Regions from separate parts of the Homo sapiens genome. Here regions 2, 3, 4, 5 and 6 are each linked to region 1. The links come from fine-mapping of genetic effects on gene expression. A gene starts in region 1. Each other region holds a variant in brackets. All regions are shown on one strand. Distances are between the middles of the regions. Region 1 holds the start of CENPU (centromere protein U). Region 2 overlaps CENPU (centromere protein U). Region 3 overlaps CENPU (centromere protein U). Region 4 overlaps SORBS2 (sorbin and SH3 domain containing 2). Region 5 overlaps PRIMPOL (primase and DNA directed polymerase). Region 6 overlaps ACSL1 (acyl-CoA synthetase long chain family member 1).

What was found. PIP is the estimated chance that this variant, and not a neighbour inherited with it, causes the effect. A credible set is the group of variants that fine-mapping cannot tell apart.
Region 2: its variant is the best candidate, but not a certain one, in a credible set for the expression of CENPU in whole blood (INTERVAL, PIP 0.67).
Region 3: its variant is the best candidate, but not a certain one, in a credible set for the expression of CENPU in thyroid (GTEx, PIP 0.59).
Region 4: its variant is the best candidate, but not a certain one, in a credible set for the expression of CENPU in monocytes after Pam3CSK4 (Quach 2016, PIP 0.75).
Region 5: its variant is the best candidate, but not a certain one, in a credible set for the expression of CENPU in monocytes after LPS (Fairfax 2014, PIP 0.77).
Region 6: its variant is the best candidate, but not a certain one, in a credible set for the expression of CENPU in whole blood (INTERVAL, PIP 0.82).

Annotation. Positions count from the first base shown.
Region 1 is chr4:184,731,981-184,736,117 of GRCh38, forward strand. CENPU (centromere protein U) reads right to left here and starts at 2,116. Exons shown (of 13, transcript NM_024629.4): 1 at 2,036-2,116. The coding sequence starts at 2,082. RefSeq lists enhancers at 1,556-2,422, 1,573-1,692, 3,930-4,137 and a silencer at 2,063-2,122.
Region 2 is chr4:184,700,950-184,704,949 of GRCh38, forward strand. It overlaps CENPU (centromere protein U), which reads right to left. Exons shown (of 13, transcript NM_024629.4): 9 at 1,414-1,492; 10 at 1,140-1,187. Among named protein-coding and RNA genes, the nearest start is that of CENPU, 31 kb to the right of the region's middle. The variant T/C (reference allele first, on the strand shown) is at 2,285.
Region 3 is chr4:184,706,536-184,710,535 of GRCh38, forward strand. It overlaps CENPU (centromere protein U), which reads right to left. Exons shown (of 13, transcript NM_024629.4): 8 at 3,537-3,645. Among named protein-coding and RNA genes, the nearest start is that of CENPU, 26 kb to the right of the region's middle. The variant G/A (reference allele first, on the strand shown) is at 1,650.
Region 4 is chr4:185,618,334-185,622,470 of GRCh38, forward strand. SORBS2 (sorbin and SH3 domain containing 2) reads right to left here. Exons shown (of 27, transcript NM_001395207.1): 20 at 1,730-1,818; 21 at 252-298. Among named protein-coding and RNA genes, the nearest start is that of SORBS2-AS1, 32 kb to the left of the region's middle. The variant A/T (reference allele first, on the strand shown) is at 2,132.
Region 5 is chr4:184,661,653-184,665,789 of GRCh38, forward strand. It overlaps PRIMPOL (primase and DNA directed polymerase), which reads left to right. Exons shown (of 14, transcript NM_152683.4): 5 at 122-251. Among named protein-coding and RNA genes, the nearest start is that of PRIMPOL, 14 kb to the left of the region's middle. The variant AT/A (reference allele first, on the strand shown) is at 2,161.
Region 6 is chr4:184,765,414-184,769,550 of GRCh38, forward strand. ACSL1 (acyl-CoA synthetase long chain family member 1) reads right to left here. Exons shown (of 21, transcript NM_001995.5): 12 at 2,903-3,037; 13 at 1,209-1,343; 14 at 478-573. Among named protein-coding and RNA genes, the nearest start is that of CENPU, 33 kb to the left of the region's middle. The variant G/A (reference allele first, on the strand shown) is at 2,412.

The DNA of each region.
Region 1 (4,137 bases):
ATTCATGGTACAATTTCTAAAATCAAGAAATTTAACACTGATACCATAATCTAATCTACAGTCCATACCCAAATCACATCAATTGTCCTATAATGTCTTTTAAGATTGCCAGGCCAGCATTTTTAAAAAAACAAACAATAAAAAAGGAAAATATAAAATGAAGCATTGCACTGGATATACTATGTTCACAAGCCTTTTGTTTTATGTGTGGATGTGTGCACACGTGTACTAAGTGTGATGTAAAACATCATTACTGTGAATCACAGTTAAAAAAAAAAAGTTAGAAAACTGTTCAGAGCGGTGGTTCCCAGACTTGAGTGTCATCAAAATTCTCAAGAGGGCTTGTTGAACAGGTTGCTTGGCACCACCCCAGGAGTGTCTGATTCAGTCCCTCTGGGGTGAGGTCTGGGATTCTGCATTTCTAACAAGTTCACGATTTATTTATTTAATTCATGAAACCTAAGGAAGCAGGTAAGACAAGTATTGGTTTTATGGCAATTTTATAGATGATGATTCCGGGATTCAGAAAATTTAAGTGACTTATCAAGGGTCACATAGCCAGGTAACAGAAACCCAGCTACACACTAGACCACATAAACTTCTTAACCTAAACTCTTTGAGCTGTCTTGTCCTTTCTTGGGGGGGAAAAAAAGTCAAGGTTCCTCCTTGCCTTACGCTGGAGTCAAGGTGGGGCTTCTGAGAGACAGAAACCTCTGTGACAACCCACAGGTAAAATTTCTGGGCCAGGCGCGGTGGCTCATGCCTGTAATCTCAGCGCTTTGGGAACCCCAGGAGGGCGGATCACGAGGTGAGGAAATCAAGACCATCCTGGCCAACATGGTGAAACCCCGTCTTTACTAAAAATACAAAAATTAGCTGGACGTGGGGGCGAGCGCCTGTAATCCCAGCTCCTCTGGAGTCTGAGGCAGGAAAATCGCTTGAACCTGGGAGGCGGAGATTGCGCCACTGCACTCCAGCCTGGGCCACAGAGTGAGACTCCGTCTCAAAAAAAAAAAAAAAAAAAAATTCTGTTGTATGTGCGTAAGTGTGTTTTGGGAGGAGGCATGAACAGATTTCATGAGTCTCAAACCCAAAAATGTTAAAAGATAAAAATAAAAAAAGACAACAAAAACCACTAGCCTTTCAGATAAACTCTTTTCAGCTGACATTGAAGGCTGACATTCTCTTCTAATCCTTTTTTGCACTGGGGGAGTCTTCATTCTCCTCCACTGGCCACAGAAGTCTGGTCTCGGTTTCCCCACCCACCTGCGGTGTCCTGCTCCAGCTTTTCCACCCTAACCCCGCATCTACCAGCACCTCCTCCTCCAGGCAGCCTTCCCAGGCCCGGGGGAACTCCTGTTCTCTTCAGATCGTCTTGGCGTATGGCTTTGTGCACCGTCTGCAGCAAGCCGAGACCCTTCCCGCCAGATCCAGGCCGGGCCTTGGATGGCCATTCGCCAACGAATCAGCGACCAGCATTCTAGAGCGCGTTTTGCAACCGACCAAACGCTCGCTTTCTTTGGTAAACAAAAACCGCTCGAGCCATCCTGGAGAACCGCAAGCGGCAGCTCGGTCCCCCAGCCGGATTTATGCTCCAGTTTACGGTCTGTGGTTTGCAGTAAGAAAACACCAGGGTCTTCAAAATAAGAAAACTGATTCCCAGTCAGAGAATAAAACTCCACTAACAAAGTCTGGCAAACCGCAGGCAATACGTATTTGCTGAATATTTTGCTTTCAAGCTAGCACTTTGAGACTCACTACTTTGGACGGCACTCCCCCTCCCCACAAAACGACACGACACTGGCTGACGTCTCTCCCACCCGCCAGGCAGTGTTAGGCCCCGACAGGCCCGTGCAGGTGGGATCACTGTTATCCCCACTAGACTGAGGAGGAAGCCGGGGACCCGGGCGATTGGCCACTCGGGCGACCTCCACAGTGGAGCACCAACAGCGCCGGGAGGCGCAAACCACGGCAGGCGAGGAAGCAGTTCAAGCTGGTCTCCGGCCCCGCGCTCCCGAGGGTCGGCAGTACTTACCCCTCAGACCTGTGAGGCCGCGGCCGCCGCCGCCCCCGCGGGGCCATGGTGCCGCTCTCCGCTCTCGAGCGACTGGAAGCTCCCGCCAAGCCCCTCGCCGCTCCGAACAGCCAATCCGGGCCGAGCACGCGCGCGTGCGCAGGACTTCCTGAGCGGCCCCCGGGCTCCTCCCTGGCCTGGAGCGTGAGGGAAAACTGGGTCTGGTTATTACAGCGCAACGGAGCTGGAGTCCATGCCGCACAACCAGTTACCTACGGTCCAAAACATGCCAAAGTTTTCCGGGCTTTCGCGCCCACCCGCATCGCCAGTTTTCCGGCGCCAGAAAGCCCGGGAGCCACGTGGGACGGCCCCTTGTGGGGTGGGGAAAGGGGAGGAGCTAGTGTCCCTGAGTCGTGGGCAGGTAAGAGGGTGGGTGGAGACCCGTGTTCGCAGCTGTTGTCGCTGAGGCCGCAGTCGTCTTTCCAGGCCTACAGGATTTGGCTTCCAGCCCCTGCTGCCTTTATCAGCTGTCTGAGCTTAGCATGTTACTTTACCGCTATCCCAATACCTTCATTTGTAAATGGACAGGGTTCCTTTTGTTCTTTTATTTTGTTTGTGTTTAAAAATGTGTAATGCAGAAGAATGTAATTGAACCCTTACCTTACACCGCGTATAAAAATTAACGCAAAATGAATCAAAGACCTAACTATAAAGGCTAAAATTAAAACTCTTAGAAGAAAACAGAGCAAAAACTTCATAACATTGGACTTGGTATGATTTCTTGGATATGATACCAAAAGCAGTTTGGGATGATGAAAACGTTCTGGAAATAGTGGTGGATGGATGCACAAGGTGAAGGTACTTAATGCCACAATACTGTAAAGTTAAAAACGGTTAAAATGCTAAATTTTGTTATGTATATTTTACTACGACAAAAATATTACGTTTCATGCATATGAAAGAATATAACGTGTAATGTAAAGATAAAAACAAACATCCGTGTAACCAGCACTACATGGGGATATGGATCATTTTTATATATAACTCTTGGGTACCCCTCTGAATGGTATCCTCCTCCTCCAAAGAATAACCACTCTTCTGATTTTATGTGTATCATTCCTGTGGTTTTCTACCTTGATATAGCCCCAAATAATGTATTGATTATTGTATGTTTCTAAACTTTATATGATATTTGGTAGGTATGCTGCAAGTGCCCTTTCTTACTAAAGCTATTGCTTTTATTTTTTATTTATTTTATTTTTCCATAAATTATTGGGGTGCAGGTGCTATTTGGTTACATGAGTAAGTTCTTTTTTTTTTTTTTTTTTTTTTTTTGAGTTGGAGTTTTGCTCTGTCGACCAGGCTGGAGTGCAGTGGCCTGATTTTGGCTCACTGCAAGCTCTGCCTCCCGGGTTCATGCCATTCTCCTGCCTCAACCTCCGAAGTAGCTGGGACTACAGGGGCCCGCCACCACGCCCGGCTAATTTTTTTGTATTTTTAGTAGAGACGGGGTTTCACCGTGTTAGTCAGGAAGGTCTCGATCTCCTGACCTCGTGATCTGCCCACCTCAGCCTCCCAAAGTGCTGGGATGACAGGCGTGAGCCACGGCGCCCGGCCTATTTATATTTTTTATTTTAATTTCTTTTTTTTTTTTCAAGATGGAGTCTTGCTCTGTCACCCAGGCTGGAGTGCAATGGCACAATCTTGGTGGGGGGGACTATCTTTTCTGGAATTTTAGGATCCCTCCTCAGACAAGCAGGCCTAACAAAAGCTATTCCTGAAGGTATGCTATGAGGAGCCTCAGAAATTGTATCCTTCCTATTCATGTAAGTGAAGATAAAAGGTGTCACTCTTCCAGCCTTGGACATCCCTTCCCTCCCTCAGGGTATGGCCCTCCACTTCATTTTTGGGGCATAACATCTTTATAGGACAGGGATAAAGTCCCAATACTAACAGGAGAATGCTTAGGACCCTTAACAGTTTTTCGAGAATGTGTTGGTAAGGGCCACTAAATCCGACCTTCCTTGGTCCTCCATGTGGTCTGGGAGGAAAACTAGTGTTTCTGCTGCTGCGTCGGTGAGTGCAACTATTCCGATCAGCAGGGTCCAGGGACCATTGTGGGT
Region 2 (4,000 bases), 31 kb before region 1:
GGTAATGAAGTGCAGTGGAAAACAAGACAGACCCAGTTCTTACCATCACAGACTTTGGTCTAATGGGGAAGACAGACATTACATAGAAACAGTATGTATTTACAGCTTGTGATATGTAGGAAAAGAAGAGAGAACTCTGGAAAAGAAAAGCAGGGGTATCTACTTCAGAATGACCAGAGGAAGGAAAGCAGGGGCCAGGTCTTTACTGGACCCTGTGACCTGTAAAGTGAGGAGATTTTATCTAGGCATACTAGGAAACTATCAAAGCAGGGGAGTGTTGTGATCCACTCTGTATTTTAAAAGAAATATTTCATATTTTATTATCTCGGACATTCAGTCACTTTTAGTGACTACCTAATTCTCCATTGTTAGACATTCATAATGTTCCCACTCCGTAATAAGCAATGCAGAAATGACCAATAAGAGATTAAAACTGAAAAACAAAAACATCCCAGAGCTTGCAATCACTGGAAGGAAAACGTATGTATTTCAAGTCCACTTCTACTTTAAATGTAGAGGTGGACTTCCACTCCTGGATTCACCTCTGATGCTCAGAGGTCATTTGGTCCAACCATTTCCAGGTAAGCAAAGGAGACTCTCATGCTGGCTGGCTTGTCACCCACTGCAGACCCAGTGGTATACAGCTTATAGGTGGTATAGCAATGAAGCAGCAGAACCAGGACTAGACATGAGGTCTCCTGACCCTTAACCCAGTATTCTTCCCAGGCTGTCCTACCTGGGACAGTTCTTTATTCTAAAAGGTTGTGCTTTTCGACATCCACAAAAGCAATAAATATATATTAATATTTATCCATGTAAGTGGTCATTTTGGACTGGGTAGTTTTTTTAAAGCTACCTTTGTGACATTAATAAAAGGCTTAAATTTCTGTCTTTAATTATAAAAACAATTATTTTGACACTCGTGCAGCCTTAGGAAACAAAAGTGACTAGGATCCCCATTCCTTACCTTGCATTAATAATACCAACCGTATCAACCACAAGATCAACCAAATAAAAGCCTGACAAGATTATGAAATCTACTCACACTCTAAAGGCTGTAAACCCAGAGTCAAGTCTTCGCATAACTCTACATTAGTATTGTGTTTGACTCTATGACTCTAATCACATAAATAATTTACCTTAGCATTCTTCCTTTTCAGATTTGTCAACATCTGGCTTTCTTTAAGCTACACAAAACAAAAAATACACATGTACATCAGTTTCCAAAAGTAAATGTTAATTAGTTTCACATGTGTCACATTTAGTTTAAAAACAGTTATGTGGAATATGAATAGTTCTAATGAGTTTATTACCATACTGCCAGCAAATGCAAGCTTTTCTAAGACAACAATATGCTGCTACAGGATTAGTGAAAAAAACCTTAGACCAACAAATGCATGTCCGTGAGCTTACCATTTTGATGAATTGTTCTTTAACATTAACATAAAATGTGGCGATGGCTGCCTTACAAACTTTAGATTCTATTCTTTGTCTGTAGAGGAATTAAAAAAAAGTCTAAGTACCATGATGGATTTTGAAAGGTGTTTCATTTGCTTAGCATACAAACAAACATACACATACAATTTGGCATATACCTTTTTTTATTTTAAAAATATCTTTAATCTCTTATTTTTAATAATCTCAATGTTTTAGATTAAGGGGTTTGTTATATGGGCATACTGCATGACACTGACGTTTGGGGTACAACTGACCCCACCACTCAGGTAGCGAGCATAGTAGCAAACAGGTTGTTTTCAGTCCTTGAATCCCTCTGTCTCTCTTCCCTCTAGGAGTCCCCAGTGTCTATTGTTGCCATCTTTATGTCCATGTGCACCCAGTGTTTAGCTCCCACTTATAAGTAAGAACACGCGGTATTTGGCTTTCTGTTCCTGCAATAATTCACTTGGGATAATGACCTCCAGCTGCATCCATATTGCTGCAAAGGACATGATTTTGTTCTTTTTTATAGCTGTGTAGTATTCCATGGTCTATATGTACCATATTTTCTTTATCCAACCCACAGTTGATGGGCACTTAGGTTGATTCCGTCTTTACTATCATGGATAATGCTGCAATGAACATATGAGAGCACCATTTTAAATAACTAAGATGGCAATGTTCAGCCTGAAAAAAACACCGGAAACATGTATCAGCAAAAGAAAAAGAACAAACATATTATTCCCTAAGCCCTCTGGTACGGGGTCATCTTAATTCCCTGATACTGACCAACCTCACAGGTGATACCAAGTAAGGTAGAAATGCTTATGGATACTCCCAATCTTTT[T/C]CTGCTAACTGATAGACCCAGCAGACTTTATTCCCTCCCTCTTTGCCTGTTAGCAAAAGGAGGAGCAACTGTGTAACACATCTGGACTAGCCAAAAAGTAGCCATAAATCAGGTGTTAGTTCTTCAGAAACTATAAAGCTGACTCAAAGAAACTGCCTCAGGTCTCTGTCACTGGGGAGAAGAGATCTGGTGGCCAGGCTCTGATTCTCCTGGCTTGGCTCACTCACCCATTAAGATGGCTATTATTAAAAAAAAACAAAACAACAAGTGTTGGTGAGAAAGTACAGAAATAGGAACCCTTGTGTTGCTGGTGGAAATGTAAAATGATATAGTCACTGTGGAAAACAGTATTGGCAGTTCCAAAAAAATAAATAAATTAAATTAATTAAACACAGAATTACCACATGATCCAGCAATTCCTCTTCTAGGTACATACACAAAAGAATTGAAAGCACGGACTTGAATATCAATTGTACACCAATGTTTGTAGCAGCATTATTCACAATAGCCAAAAGGTGGGAACAACTCAAGTGTCCATTGATAGATGAATGGATAAAGGAAATGTGTTAAAATCATGACCACATAACAATGTCTCAGTCAACGATGGATGGCACATACAGTGGTAGACCCATAAGACAATAATGGAGCTAAAAATTTCTAATCACCTAGTGACACTGTTGCCATCATAATGTCATAGCACAATGCATTATGCACATACTTGTGGTGATGCTGGTGTAAACAAACCTATAGTGTTGCCTAGCTGTGTAAAAGTATAGCACACATACTTAGGTATACTACATAATACTAGGTAATAAATTACTAAGTGCCCCAAACAGGTGTAACATACTTCATCTTTTTTTTTTTTGAGATAAGGTCTCACTCTGTCACCCCCGCTGGACTGAGTAGTGTGATCATGGCTCACTGCAGCCTCAAACTCCTTGACTCCAGTGATCCTCCTGCCTCAGCCTCCCGTGTAGCTGGGACTACAGGCATATGCCACCACGCCTAATTTTTAACTTTTTTGTAGAAAACAGGTCTCATTATGTTGCCCAGGCTCATTTTTTATCTTTTATACTGTATTTTTACTGTACCTTTTCTATGTTTAGATACACAACTTACCATCATGCTACAATTATCTACAGTACTCAATACAGTAACATGCTGTCCAAGTGTGTATCCTGGGAGGAATAGGCAACACATCATATAGCCGCGGCATGTACTAGGCTTACACCTAAGCCTAGTACATGCCATCTAAGTTGGTTTAAGTACACTGTTAACACAATGACAAAACTGCCTAAGGATGCAGTTCTCAGAACACATCCCCGTTGTTAAGTGACATGAATGTGTATACATGACTGAATATGATTCCACCTTAATAAGTAAATTCTGACACATGCTATGACATGGGTGAGCCTTGAGGACATTATGCTGAGTGAAATAAGACAGTCACAAAAGGACAAATATTGTATGATTCCACTCATATGAGGTACCCAGAACAGTTAGATTTATAGAGACAAAGTAGAATGGTGATTGCTGGGGGAGGGAGGAATGAGGAGTCATTGCTCGAATGGGTACAAAGCTACCGTTTCCTAAGGCTTTAGTTCTAGAGATGGGCTGCTTAACAAGTTGCACACAGTTAACACACAATAAAAAGAAAATATTTCTACACTTCACACCTATCACAATGGCTAAAATAAAAATTAGTGAGAACACCAA
Region 3 (4,000 bases), 26 kb before region 1:
TGTAATGTTGCATTTCATGGCATACTTCCCTACTTATACATAAACTGCTTATCATCAGTTCATACTGATATGACAGTGAAGCTATTCAGGTGTGAGTGCTAGGTACAGGATATTACAAACAGACCCTTAAACAGTTGTTGACTTAATTTTGAAAGAGTGAAGTGTTTCACGTGGCTGAGAACACCATATTGTCAAGGAAACAAAATGAGATCAGTGATTCACCAGAATTCTTATTTGGTATGACAAAAACACAAGGTTGTACTGCAATAAGTCTAAGAAAAAATACTATGCCTCTTCTAAATCATTTCTTATATCAAGAACTTACTACCCACTGCAGCAACTCAGACCTCTGTCCCTGTGTCCTTACTACCCACTGGGTGGTAAGTTCTTGATATAAGAAATGATTTAGAAGGGGACAATGCCATTTTCCCTAAAACATCAGAAGTCTATAATAAGCTTCCTATAAGAGATTTGTGAATAGGTAAAGGATAACACAAGCAAGATGGTCTTGGGTGTGTTAACAGAACTGTCCTAGTTTTAACAGGAAACTGGCTCTGGAATATAAAGAAGAGTAAAACAGGCACTTCTCACAATGATAATGATGAGTTGGCATGACAGGCTGGCTCCTTTCCCCAAGCTCACCCAGAACTACAGAGGGAATACCAAGAAAATGGAGAAAGCTGTGAAAACCCTGAGGGGAAGGTCATGTAGAGAGAATAACTGCTGTAAGGAGTGGCGCTGTGGCCAGGGCAGGAATAGAGAGCTGCAGGAAACTGACTCCTGCCTCTTCCCATCACCGATCTCATCAATAGTGTGCCTGCTCACCCCCGCTCCCCTGCCCCCTGCAGCAACTGAGACCTCTGTCCCTGTGTCCTCAAGACTGAAACTGGGGTTGGACTTGTGGGGCCTAGAGAAAAACATGGGAGGCTGACTGACTTTGGGCAGCTGTTTCCTCACCCTTCCCCAGCCAAACCCCCATGCTGGAGAATGATGACCCAGAGTCCATCTTTTCTTCCTGCTGCTCCTCTCTGGAGGGCGAGGAGTGAAGTGCTGACCTGACAGGCTGTTTTGTGAGATGAGTCGCTGAGGCTGCCCATCCTAGGGCTTACCCCACCCCCTGCACTGACGGGCACTAACAGGGACTGGGGTTTGGCCTTCTTCTATACATACTGTCTGACAGAAGCTGACAGGCCCAGGGGAAAATAAGCTCAGAGGCTGGAATAACAGGATGCTGGAGGAACCCAACTATTTCAAACGGAAAACACATATTATATCCGAAACCTTACCAGAAGCAGGTATTTTAGAATAGCTGATCCAGTAATTTGAAATTAGCCCAACAGATATTCTAAGGAAGATATTAGCAGCATAAAACATGAATACAAGACACAAAGCAAGCAGCAGAAATAGCTGGGCGCGGTGGCTCACACCTGAAATCCCAGCACTTTGGGAGGCCAAAGTGGGTGGATCACTTGAGATCAGGAGTTTGAGAGCAGACTGGCCGACATAGTGAAACCCCATCTCTACTAAAAATACAAAAAATTAGCTGGGCGTGGTGGCGCATGCTTGTAATCCCAGCTATTTGGGAGGCTGAGGCAGGTGAATCGCTTGAACCTGGGAGGTGGAAGTTGCAGGGACTGAGATCGCGCTAC[G/A]GCACTCTAGCCTGGGTGATAGAGTGAGACTCCATCTCAAAAAAAAAAAAAAAAAAAAAAGCAGAAATATTAATATAAAAGCTAAGTTAAATAAAGAACTCAACAGATGGGACAAATGGCAGAATGGATATTTCTAAGAATAAATTAGCAAATCTAATTTCTTAGATTGAGGAAATCTCCCAGTGAATGAAGCAAAGGATAAGAGAACAAAAAAGAAAATCAGGATAAAAATATTTTAAATTCTTAGAATTAAAAAAATTTGTTCAGCAGCAATAGAATAAAAAAATAAAAAATTAAAAAACCTTGGAATGAAAAGGTCAGACTCAATATAGTGAAATTTAAGAATATCAAAGAAAAAAAATAACAGTTTAGAGAGCTAAAGAACAGATCACATTCAAAGAAATAAGAATTAGATAGACATCAAATTTTCCAAAAGCAACACTTGATGTAAAAGAATACAAAGTTTCCAAAGTATTTAAGAAAATAATTTAGAACCTAAAGTATTATATCCAGCTAAGCTGTCATTCAAATTCAAGGGTATAATCAAAATAATCAGAAGGTTTAGAAGTTTTGCAACATAAAGAGTCACACTGAGGTGTTGGATGAAATGCTTAAATATGAGAAAATACTTATCTACAGGATATTGCAAGAAAATATATGAGATAAAAGTGATCAAATACCTAAGTGAATTTTGTTGTTGTCTTAAAAACAGAGACAGACACACACAACAGAAGGGGAAATTCTATCTACCTTAATTTAGAATTAAAGGTGGGGAGTTATAAATACAACTTTTTTAAGTTAAAAAAAATTCAGAACATCAAAAAGTAGAATAAAAAAGTTAAAGAAGTAACAATATATCAACATATTGTTCAAGATATATCGATATTACAATAAATGTTAATGGACTAAACAGTTGAAATTCAAAGACTGATACACTGTATTTAAAAAGACTAATAAGGAAATTAAAATTTAAGGTCGCAAAAAGGTTGGAAGTAAAAGAAATTAAAAAGAATGTAAAATCTGGCCGGGTGCAGTGGCTCACGTCTATAATCCCAGCACTTTGGGAGGCTGAGGTGGGCAGATCACGAGATCAGGAGATCGAGACCATCCTGGCCAACATGGTGAAACCCTGTCTCTACTAAAAATGCAAAAATTAGCTGGGCGGGGTGGCACATGCCTGTAGTCCCAGCTACTTGGGAGGCTGAGGCAGGAGAATTGCTTGAACCCGGGAGGTGGAGGTTTCAGTGAGCCGAGATCTCTCCACTCTACTCCAGCCTGGAGACAGAGAGAGACTCCATCTCAAAAAAAAAAAAAATCTGCCAAATGCTAGCAAAAGAAAACTATGATGCATATTAGTATCAGGTAAAATAAATTTTAAGACAAAGTATGTTTAGGAATAGAGTGGGTGACCAACTAAAATGTTCAATTTGCAAGACAGAGCAATTTTAAACATGATTTTCCTAATAGTCTCTAAATATATACAGCACAAATGAATAGAAGTACCAAGAAAAACTGAACATAGATCCAATAATTAGAGATTCTATCTAGATCTAATGATTAGAAATTCCACACAGATCATGTACCAGGTCATGAAGAAAGCCTCAAAATTTAAAAAAAAAAAAAGGTATCACTGGACCATGATCTTTGACCACAACATATTTAAGATAGAAGGTTAATACAAAAATATAAATTTAAAAGTCTACATATTTGGGACAAATAAAAACATATGAATTCTTCAAAGAATTAAAGAAAAAATTATAATAAAATGTAAAAATATCTAAAACAATGACAATGAAAATAGTACATAACAAAAACTGTAGGATGAGCAAAAATGGTGCTTCAGGGGAAATTTATTAGGTAAATATAGCACATCATCAAAAGACTTACTGATGCTCTAGGTGGGTTTTCTCAAATTCAGGCAAAACAATATTCAACTCCTTGATGTCACTGGTTTTCATTCCTTCTGGACACCAAATGTGCACAATGTCAGAAGTATCTAAAATATTAAGATAAGTTAACATGCTGGTTATTCATATTTTGGCTGTAGGTCCAGGGTTCTGAAAGCCTGACACAAAAATAGTCTCACCAAATTGTAAAAGATAGCTACAGCTGAACAATCAGAGAGGAGGTGCCGTACTCACTTCTTATCCCTGTGCACAGTCTCGCAAACCCCTACATACACTTTCACTCTAACTGCTGTCTCGCTGGTTCTCCTATTTCTGCTAAAGCAACCAAAAGCATTGCTGCCTTTTAATCACCTTACTGCATCTTTATTTAGTATTGTGCTGTTATTTAACATTACTGGGGATAAGCTCTTCATTGTTAGCTGTATTTTCTGAATTTTAATCTAT
Region 4 (4,137 bases), 890 kb after region 1:
CTTTTTGTTTTTCCTATCCTTTAGAATTCATTGTGTTCTACCTAACATGTTTAATGTAATTTAAAACTCAGTAATTCTCAACTAAACTTAAAATAAAAGGTAATTCTGAAGGAACCATTTAATTAGAGTAGATTGCTGCATTGGGAATTAGACCTCATTTGTAACAGATCCTACTGCAATGCTTATCTCTTAAAGCATTACTAACATTTAAAACCACCTTAAATCATATGATGAGTATTTATCTTACTTACTTAGATGTCTGAGCCTTAAAATCATAAACAGCTTTTGCAGGCAATTTCTGAAAAGGAAGATAAACAATTAGCACTAATTTAAAATTTGAATTTTCTACAAGAAAGTAGTTTAATGTGCCTTAAAGAAAAAGGAAACCTCAGGGAATCATCAAACATATGTAATGTTAATCCTGTAAGCAATTTATAAATAAGTCCATTCATTCTTCATTTAGATATTTAAGCTATAATAGGAATATAATAGAAGGCTTATTCACCATCATATTTAATCTTAGGAACTAAGGTAGATTAATGTTATAATGAGAGAATAAAATGCCTGCAGAGGTTTGCATCCTAGGCATCATTTTGGCTGTTACAAAGGCTCTTCCTAGGATAAATGTGGAGGGTCAATGGCTCTATGTTCTATGGAGATTGACACAGCTCCCTCTGAATCATAATAAAAGGACCAGATGTCATAAAAGAAGTAATCATTCCCTTCATTAGACACTTATTAACATATTAGCAAAAAATATTAGCTCAATTATCACTGGGAGGCTGGTTAGTGGGCAAAAGTATAGGTGTGATCATCTTGCATTCCCTAGAGGGCTCAGGAATCCTTCAACACTCTGTCCACCAGCCACTCGTCTTTTAGTTGTGATGTGATGTGACACGTGCCCATCCTCAAACTCTGGGGGCCACAGATCTCCCTGAGGTACCCTGTACCCTATAGCTAGCTAGGCCAGCTCTTCCTTCCTCACCAACCAACAATCCCTTCACTCCATTCTTTTCCCCCATGACTCTGGTGAACTTTAGGAATCCTGGACCATTTCTAACTTCTTTGGGGATCCCACAGGCTCTGGACTACATCAGACGCCTATAAGATCCTCTGGAGCGGCTACCAGTCCAAGTCCAGCTTTTAGTTTCCATCCAGCCGTCATGGCTCCAAGGCAGTTTGAGCAAGAACTCTAGCCCCGGCTCAGGGCCCTGGACAGAGTTCAGTTGGTGGGTGGTTCCCAGGGGCAGTATCCCGAGAACTGGGCTGGTTAAAAGCTCTTTTTAGGGATCCTCTCCAATAAAAGGAAGCCAGCAAAAATGATTTCTGTAGGCTCTGTATTGATTTACAACACAGTTGACATCAGGCTTTCTCCTGGACCAGCGGGCCAAGAAATTGTAGAGGAAACCTATTGCCTCCACGAGGTGCCCTAACTCAGGACACTTTTAGGTCATAATGGTTAAGTTCATGGGCATCAGGTCAAGACTCGGAGAAGCCTCATGGCCAAAACTGGGCCACCACTAGGGAAGACCCACAGCTAGGGTCAGGGTGTGGACTGCTTCTAGGGTCAGAGTTGCTATGCTCAGGCCCCAAGGAAAATTGTTTCTAGTTTCTCAGTATTTTCACATTTCCTGTCCGAGTTCGTTACTGGTTTGGGATAATTTTTGGCTGGTAAGTGCTGTATCAAGTGTGTTGCTGTGAAAGACTCCAATGCTATTAAATTAACTACCTCTTTTTCTGGAGTTCCTCTTCTTTCCCTTGGTGCACTTCTCCCCATGTCAGTCAAAGTGGATGAGTAACTTCTAGGGGACTCACGGTCTATTGGAAAGAACAGGGCCAGTCATGGTGAGTATCCACTTAATTACAAGCCAACCTGTTCCGCCATTTTCCCTGGTGGCCACTACTTTTTTCCCCAAATTTGGAGAGACACCGTTATCGAACACATGGGCATAAAACTCATAGTTCATTACAAAGTTGTGAAATAAGACACAAAACAAGAGCATTTCAAAAGGAAAAATATCTGAGGTTGCAGAATTATAATTGTCTATATAAATATGATTACTACATTGCTGATTAATTATATTGCCACACCCAGTAAGACAATTTATAGTTAGAGGGATTTTTCATATAA[A/T]TTTTTTCCAAAGCTTTCTGTTTCTATGCCTTTGCTTCTTATTTATAATTACTATTATAAGATTTACAGAGGATGGAGAATTTGAAAATAGCAACAATTTGTAGAAAAAGAAACATTTTGTGGAGTAATTTAAGACTGTAGTAATGAAAAAGAAAGAGATAAAACCAAAGAAAGTATGAGGATGACAGGAGGGTGGTGATGAACATTCTCCTTCTGCCTTACTCTCCCCTCTTCGCTCTTCCTCTGTTTTTAAATACTTATTGAATCTCAAGATGCCATGCTGTTTATCTACGACCTTCCTTTGTGCCCAGATGATAAACACCTTATCAGAAAGCAAAGAAACAAAGAGATATTGTTTCTTCTTACTCCAAGCAAAAAAGGGATAAACAGAAAGCATCATGTCAGTTGCCAAATTGCTTATGAAATATTGAATTATTTTTGTTCATCTTAAAGCAAAGCATAAATAATCACATTACAAAATTTTGATTGCATGTAGTTCTTAATAGTATCTTATACCTTTTGCACTTACGTGACTTACATATGGAGATGTAACTAGACATTAAATGTATTCCAGTAGTCTATGTTATAGAATTTTATCAGTACAACTGGGTCAATATTTGTCAATTCTTTCTTTTATCCCTTAAATATATCTAGTTATCCAGACTAACAAGAAGCATTAAAAATAAAATTTATTTTATCCATCTATGAAAGAATTTAAAGTGCTGATTCATAATAAGAAAACATTGTTTTAGGATTTTGACTACTTTGATGATGTAAATTCTAAGTTAATATACTTTTATGATCATAGGGCCTCATAATGATCATAAATTTTAAATTACTTTTTCTAACCCAGGGAATATAAGCTATTTTTCACTTGGGTGAAACACAATTGGAAAGTAAATATTTTACTAAAAAACAAAATACTTTTAAATGCATTTCAAAGCCCTTCCAAGTTACGTTTCAAAAATGTACTCCTATCTGCACATAAAATTGAGAGATGGTTATATTAGGATATTAAAAGCCTGGAGAAGGTAGCTAATTTATTAAAAAATGAGATTCTGACACATTTCAATTAGTGAAAATTTTGAATTGTAGAAATTGATTTTTTAAATTCTAATTTATTATTTTGAAGCATGTTGCTTCAGCCTAAGGGTAGGCAAAGATAAACGTAAGTGTATAGTGTAGCAAAAGTGAAAGCAAACATAAAGACTAAGTAGATTTGTGCAAGTTAATTAACAATCGAGCCATATTTGACACTAGTATGAACTGTGAATTATGTCTTTTTTTTTGTCTGAGATTATATTTTATACTATAAATTCTGAATTATTAGGGGTTTGAATCTCTTTTCTGTTATCTACTCTCTGTGTGACCTTGGACGAATTTCCTTTCCTCTCTGGGCCCAACTTCCAAAATTGAAAATGGCTTTTGAAATAACACCCATTTCATAGGCCTATGCCAGTTTTATTAGATAATGTATGTAAAGCACTCTGTAGTGTCTGGTGCATAGAAGTTTCTCTGTTGACCAACTTTCAGCCCGGAATGTTCATTCCAGCCTCTTAAAATTTACGTAGTGAACAGATGTGCTGTAAGAATTAATGAAAATAATTGGTCACAAATATTAAAACACCCTGGGCTGTAAGTTATATAAATCTCAAAAATAGTCCTCTGCCTTTCAATTGCTATTTATTCTTGTGTTGCCACTTCAAAGTTATCTATGAAAATAGAGTTTAGAGTCACTGTTAGCCTGAATAGTGTAATTCAAATTTCAATACAGGACTGTTTTAGCAGAAAGAGAAAGTGAATGAATTAAGTAATGGAAAAGAGAAAATGAATACACTAAATGGTGGAAATGGGACTTTTATATATATAGCTTAAAGATACATTCACAAAAATTTTATCACCATTGTGTCCTTGAAATGGAGAAAGCTATTAAACAAACCCTAATTTCTTTGTGTCCATCAATTACTAATCACATATTTCAGTTTTGCTTCTTGAATGTTTTGATA
Region 5 (4,137 bases), 70 kb before region 1:
CCGAGATCACACCACTGCAGTCCAGCCTGGGCAACAGAGCTGACTCAGTCTCAGTCAGTCAATCAATCAATCAATAAAGGTATAATATATCAATTTAACAATCTTGAATTATTCAATTTAGAAAAAATCTCTTACACTGCTATGAAGTTATTCCTGAAAATGCTGTGTGCAAGCTTTATTTTGATTTGGAATTTAACAAACCTGCCAACCCAGGAGCTGATGGGAAAAAGATGGTTGCATTACTCATTGAGGTAAATGGCCAACTCAAGTTTTTCTTATTTCTATCCATCTCTTCATTGGCTTATTCATTCAGTGAATTCAGCCTACATAATAGTAGGTTCTGTATCTCTTCTTTTTCTTGCTACTCTTCCTTTTGACTTTAGGATTTTTTAATATTACTTGTATGAGTAAACTGTGAAAAGGAAGGAAAGTTCAATTTGTGTTCATATAGTTTGCAATTTTGCTGTCTGGTAAAAAAAATGCTTTGAAAAAGATGTCAGTTTGAAAATTTTCTATATTTTAAAATTATATATTAATTCTCTGACTTCCATTACGAATAGCTGACTTTGGTAAAACCAGGCAAAATAATTTTTACTGTAAAAATTGGGTACTGAGATGAACCTCAAGAACACTGACTACAAATAGTATTAGAATTTTCAAGCTTGCAGGAATTTTGGAAATCATCTTATCTTGTCCCTTTCAAAATGAGGAAATTAAGGCCCAGACGAAACTAATTCCTATTCAAGGTCCTACAGCTAGTAATGGTAAAATCTTGTCTAAAAATATAGTTACTATTTTTAACTAAGAGAAAAAATACTGTAGTTCTTTATTTTTGATTTAGCTGTGTCAACCAGGAAGTTACTAATAAAAGGAATAGCATGGACTTGTGCAGCTAAGTTCTATTAGGATTATTTCAAAAAAAATTTTCAGATTGTATCACAGGAAGTTGTGTTAAAATTGTATTGACTATTATTCAGCCTAAGTGTAGGTACTGACACTTACTGACTAGCTATTTTTCTTTTAAATGTTAACTGAATAATAATGTTATAGATTACCCATTTTATAACTTTTAAAATATATCCAGATTAAAATGTTTTTGATAAAGAATATCTGCTAGTATTCTCTGTTGGACCTCTACATGCTTGATTTTAAATCTTTGTGAAAATGTATGTGAATGCTATTTAAAAAATATATAGAATGTTAGCTTTATCCTGGCTTTGAAGCAGAAGAAATATATATAAAGTCCCCCACCACCCCCAAAAAAAACCCCAAATTATATTTTTCTTCAAATAGCCATTGAACCCTTAAAAATAAATTTAGATGCTTATTTCATTACAGCTGGTAAATTCTGTTTAATTTTAAACCTTTATTATTATTATTATTATTATTATTATTATTATTATTATTTCTGAGACAGAGTCTAGCTCTGTCACCCAGACTGGAGTGCAGTGGTGTGATCTCAGCTCACTGCAATCTCTGCCTCCCAGGTTCAAGCAGTTCTCCTGCCTCAGCCTCCCGAGTAGCTGGGATTACAGGTGTGTGCCACCATACCTGGCTAATTTTTGTATTTTTAGTAGAGATAGGGTTTTGCCATGTTGGCCAGGCTGTTCTTGAACTCCTGGCCTCAAGTGATACACCCATCTCCGCCTCCCAAAGTGCTGGGATTATAGGCGCGAGCCATTGTGCCTGGCCTAATTATGTTTTTAGTAATTCATAAGTATTGACTTTCTTCTACAGTCTAAAGTAAGATTTCTTGTGTAGTTTCTCCATGGGCTACAAGGAACCTCGATTCAGAGATTTTCACTGCCACTTAACATTGCATATTAGCAAAGAAGTACCACATTGCATTAGAAACTAGAAATATTTCTAATGAAATGAACACTGGAGCAAATTTCATTTGTAACACATATTAATAAACACTGGTATGGCAAAGACCATGTAGGTGTTTAGAATTTTTTTCTCCTTATTCTTTATACTACTTTATCCAAATGAGTCTTGAGCAGCTAATCTTCTGCATCAGCAAAACTGTTGGAAGAAACTGTAGAAATCGAAGTTCAAAATTATACAGCATTTTTATTTAACATGTTTACCATGTTGATAGAACAGTTCTCATTGGATTACTTTACTTAATATAATGCTTTTTATAATGATTACATTGAA[AT/A]TAATTTCATTTATTGGTTACTTTGTATGCAATAAGTTTATAATCCAGTAAGTACTTTTTCCTTTGAGTCTTACTGTGAGGAGGCATAATTAGGTTAGCTCTTATGCTAATTTAGCAGATGGTTAATAATAATTGGTGATAATGTAAAATACCCTGTGGTTCAGTGGCTAAACTGACACATTTCAATAAGCCCCTTCTCCACAGTTAGAATGAATTCTGGTGCTAATGTATTTTATTAGGACCACATTTCAGGGCAACATTGTCCACTCATGTAAGTTTAACTTCTGGATTTTATAATTTAATTATTTAAGTAACTTAAAGTTTTAATTAAAGTTAATCTTGGGAAATAGAATTTAGGAGAATATGATTACTTGTCCTACCTAAAGCATCACTAAATTTATTCTCTGTAGCTCCGAAAGTACAGAAGTCGACTTCATTCATCAAATAGTTTTTAGTCCCTACTAAGTGTCAGGCACTGTGCCCAGGCACTAGGATTACCAAGTGGTAAGTCAAAGAGACATAATGTCTGATGGCATACACTTTGTAGTCTAATGGAGGATAATACGTTAGGATAGATTTAGCTGCCATAATAAAGACCCAAAATTAAACTGGCTTAAACAAGACAGAAACCTATTTCTCCCCCAAGTAATATCTAATGTGGCTCCGTACTGTTAGGGACTAGGCTTGTTGCTTTGCTGTCCCTAAGATGTTGCCTTCTTCCATTGTCCAAGATGGCTCATACCACTGTGTCTGCATTCTAGTCAGTACAAATGGAGAAGGGGACGGTACGCCCTTTGCCTGTTAGAGGATCACTTAGAAGTGGCATACTTTCCTTCTCACGTCCCATTGGCCAGACTTAGCAGCCACACCCTGCTGTAGAGGAGCCTGGGAAATGTAGTCTTTGTTCTGGATGGCCTCCAATCTAGCTAAAAAATTGGGATTCTGCTTCTACAGAGGGAGAGAACAAATATGGAGGAAGAGCCCCTGTAATACAGAGGAAACATGTCAAACTAATCACATAAATCAACCTAAAATTGTAAGTCTATAAAGAGAAAAAGAGTATGTAGGGGGAATTTGATGTAGAGAGGGAAATCAAGGAAGCCCTCTCTGAGAAAGAATTTACAGAAGAGTAAAGCCAGAGGGCATGAGGACAGTGTGGTGTTAGAAGAATCCCAAAATATCATTAAAAATACAGTTTATTGCGTAACTTTGAGGTATCTAAACTGACGGCAGTTCATAAACATTTTTGCTCATGTCAAGATAATATTGCATGGTAGTTCTTAGTAGCTTCATTTTGCAAATGAGAAAATTGAAGCTTTAGGGACTTGTCCTAAGGCTGCACAACCAAGGCTTTTTTAAGCAGTTACATGTGCTAAAAATTTCCATTTTCTTTTTTATTCCTTAAAGCAACTCCAAAAGGTAGCTGCTATTATTATTCCTGTTTAGCAGCTGGGAAATGTTAAGGTTTAGATTTGACCAAAGCCATAGAGCTGGCAGATGGCAAAGCCAAAACTGACACTGACCTGTCTCTGACTCCAGCCCCCGTGCTTGCTGCCTTTCTATTGTGCATGGCCTTCATGCCCAGTGCCTTGTAGTCTCAGAGGCTGTATTCTTAGAGCTGGAGTCAGGCTCAATATGAACTAGACACTTTCTGGTAATTAAAACCATTAAAAAAAATGAATTAATGACTTTTTTTTTTTTTTTTTTTGAGATGGAGTCTCACACTGTCACCCAGACTGGAGTGCAGTGGCACCATCTTGGCTGACTGCAATCTCCGCCTCCTGGGTTCAGGTGATCTTCCTGCCTCGGCCTCCTGAGTAGCTGGGACTTATAGACACCTGCCACCACGCCTGGCTAATTTTTATGGTTTTAGTAGAGACTGGGTTTTACCATGTTGGCTAGGCTGGTCTCAAACTTCTGACTTCAAGTAATCTGCCCGCCTTGGCCTCCCAAAGTGCTGGGATTACAGGCATGAG
Region 6 (4,137 bases), 33 kb after region 1:
AAATATACATATGGTTGCTTCTCCAAGCAACCTAATAATAACATATCTTCCAAACAAACATAACACACACACACAAAGTAGGGGGTGGGAAGGATAGGGGTGATGTTGGTGAAAGGACACAAAGTCTCCATCAGGAGGAACTGGTTCAAGAGCTCCATAGCACCACGTGGTGACTAGAGCTAACAACAATGTATCATATACTTGAAAACTGCCCAGAGGGTAGATTCCAAGTGTTCTCACCACGTGGGAAAAAAAAGTATGGGTGGTAAGACACATGTTAATTAGCTTCATTTAGCCATTCCACAATGTTTACATATTACATACATCAAAACATCATGTTGTTACGCCATAAATATAGATACGCTTGTCAATTAAGAAAGAACACACACACACACACACAGTACAGATGACTTTTGGTGCAGAAGAGGACTGGGCATCCTAGTGTGGGAGAATCAGGCGCCGTGACATCCACCTCACCTGACAGCCCAGGGCTGCTCTGAGGAACGTCAGCACAGTGGCAGACACCGGGGCGGCTCCTGTCACCATCAGCCGGACTCTTCCGCCCAGGCTCGACTTTCAGGGAGGGAGAGTGGGAGAAGGTGAGGGTTACACACCTGGAAGTCGGCGGCCTCTCCGCCAAGGGGGCCTGCTTGGGACCCCGTTCCCTAACCCATAGCTGCAGACCACACGGAGGCCACACGGAGAACTCACAGCCCTCATGATGGCAGCACAGGGCTACGGTTTGTTTCCACCCGTGACTGCCCTGTTCCCTCCCAATGGGGATGGAAGTCAGCCCCACCTCTGCAGAAGCTATTTCAGGGAATTAGAACACAACTGGGCAGATCTGTGGCAACTACCACAATTCTGGCCTTCTGGGGGGCATGATATTGTTACACGTTATCACTCATGCTTGAAAAATTACCTCAAGAGTGACACGCTTGTTCCGGAAAAACGCAACAAAATGGAGAATGAGAAAGGCTCCACTACCCTGACTCCTTTTCCCCCTAGATGGCTGCAATACTATTGATCTTAGAAACTGAGGCCTCCTTAATGGCTTTGCCTTAGTTTTTAAATGTGTGCCAGAATTAACAAAAACATGTTATTCTCTCCCTTACCTTCATCTCTCCCTCTCACAAAAAAGGCCCTCCCAGAACTCTGAAAAGCGAAGTCGGTTTCCATGGGAGCAGTGGCTGTGAGTCACGTGTTACCTGTACTTTGTGGAAGATCAGCCGGTCCCACAGGCTGTTGTTTCTGATGATGCCGCTGCGAAGCTCTGCTTCTTTCCTCTTGGAGGCAAAGTCCAAGAGCCATCGCTTCAGCGTGGTGTTTGCTTGTCCGAAAATCTAATGAGGCAAGACATGAGAAAGTTTTCACACCTACTAGGATGGCCAGAGTCAAAGAGTGTGGAGAAATCAGAACCCTCACACACAGCTGGGGAACACAAAATGGCACAGCTGCTCTGACAGCCTGGCCGGTCCTCTAACGGCCCCACATGGTCAGCACAGGACAGCAATTCCACACCTCGGTATACACCCAGGAGCAATGGACACATACATCCCCAAATGCCCATCGAGTAGGAATGTGTAGGCCAGGTGCGGTGGCCCACGCTTGTATTCCCAGCACTTTGGGAGGCTGAGGTGGGCAGATCTCCTGAGCTCAGGAGTTTGAGTCCAGTGTGGCCAACATGGTAAGACCCCATCTCTACAAAAAATACAGAAATTAGCCGGGCATGGTGGCACATGCCTGCGGTCCCAGCTACTCAGGAGGCTAAGGTGGGAGGACTGCTTGAGCCCTGGAGGTGGAGGCTGCAGTGAGCCATGATAACACCACTGCACTCTAGCCTGGATGACAGAGAGAGAGACCCTGTCTCAAAAAAAAAAAAAAAAAAGGAATGGATAAATAAAATGCGTTATACCCATACAGTGGAATACTATTTGGCCGTTAAAAGGAATGAAGTGCTAATACGTGCTACATGGATGCTTGTGAAAGACGCCAGTCACAAAGGAGCACATATGGCATGATTCCATCCACAGAAAAGTCCAGAATAGAGAAATACACAGATGAGCGGATGCTGAAGGGTGGAGGGGGTCGGGGAGCTGATAAAGAATAGGTAAGGGTTTCTCTTGGAGGTCATGAAAATGTTCTAAAATTGATTGTAGTGATGGCTGGAGAACTGTGAAAGTACTCAAAACCTTTGAATTACACACTTTAAATCAGCAAATTATACAGAGTATTATATGTTGATAAAGTTGTCCTTTTAAAAAGAACCATTAAAAACATAAGAACGTTCTGAGAGATAACAAAAGTCCTGCCTCAAAATAAAGAGTAAGTGAACACTCTTTCTGGAGATTGCTCATGCCCCTCGCGCCTGGCCCTGGCTGTGCGGTCCACGCAATGATACCCACCGCAGA[G/A]GGGCTGGTGTTCTCTTGGGCTCTGCTGTGGCTTAGTCACTTCTTTCAGTGTGGCCAATTAAGTAATGTTTTACATGTCCATGCAAGGAGCTTTACAATGAAGAAAACCATTTCATAGTTACTATTCTTACGTGATCCCATTAGCAACTTTTGGAGACAAACAGTAGGAGAGAAGAGGTAAACAGTCCGTGTTACACATGAGGAAGCAGAGGCTCAAAGTGTTTATTGTAAAAATAAAATGACCTCCCACATTATGCTTGTGTTGTGACCATGGTTTACAAAGTGTGTTCATGCATTTTCTCTTATAATCCTTATCAGCCACTCTGAGAGGTAAACGCATTCTAACTTTACAGATGAGTAAACTGAAGTTCTGTAAGATTGGGAGGATTGTCCAGGGTCATACAGATGGCACATGGCACAGCCCAATTCAAGCCCAAGCCCCTGCGTCCAAGTCAGTGCTCAGTCCTGGGACTTCGCTGCTTGGAACTTACTCGGTCAAACATCCGGTTCAGCAGTCTTGGAACCACGGGGAAGACAGTGGGTTGAAGCACCTTGAGGTCATCCATGAGCAGCCTGATATCTCCTTGGAAAAATCCGATTTTAGCTCCATGACACAGCATTACACACTATAGGGGTAATGGAAAAAACAAACATTTTATCACCACAGCAGGGGTTACACAACATATGGACAACATCCAACATTTCAGTTTTAGCATTTCAGGCCAGTTTCCAGAAATCTTAAATTTCCTAAATATAGGTAACTTAAAAAAAATGTGCATTTACTAGTCATTGTACAACATGGAAATGTGGTATTTCTCTTGGTTATCCTGAAGATATGGGACTCAGTAAAAAACCAGGCTATGTTGTTTTTAGTGATGACCACAGAGGTTCTACTCTTTTAGTGCGGTGGTAAGTATCTGTTCAATGAATGACATGGTATTACATATTCTAAATATTTTTAGTGGCTGGGCGCGGTGGCTTACACCTATAATCCCAGCACTTTGGGAGGCCGAGGCAGGTGGATCACTTGAGGTCAGGAGTTCCAGTCGAGCCTGGCCACGTTACGGTGAAACCCCATCTCTACTAAAACAAAAATTAGCCGGGCTTGGTGGCGGGTGCCCATAGTCCCAGCGACTCAGGAGGCTGAGGCTGGAGAATCGCTTGAACCCAGGAGGCGGAGATTGCAGTGGGCTGAGATTGTGCCACTGCTCTCCAGCCTGGGCCACGGAGGGAGACTCTGTCTCAAATATATATATATATATATATATATAGCCTTCCAGAAACTTTACATTTAATTTATTCTCAAAATAAAAACTTAACTTCTTGCCTAGAGTCCAAGTTTGTTAAAGTCTCACTTTCTTTTGTTTGAATCTAACTAGAAGTTTCTGAAAGGCCACCAAGTATGATGAATTTGTGACACCAGGGTATCTAATACCAGAGTGGCTTGCCATTCAGCTAGAATACACTGCATGATTTTTTTCCTGTCTAGTACAAACCATGCTGGCAAGCCATATGGACCTGACAGTTTGCCTATTTTAAAATTTAAAAAGAAAAGATTCAAAAGATGACACAAGGGAAGTACAAATGTTCTCTGTCTTAGAAGCAGAAACCACGAGAAAGGTACACCATGGTTCACTGTTTAACAATTACAGCTCAGAAAGCTTTTGTTCAGCGTGGCCTGCCTTCTAGGCACACCTCTAAAACTCGTTAGGTACAGCAACTCATG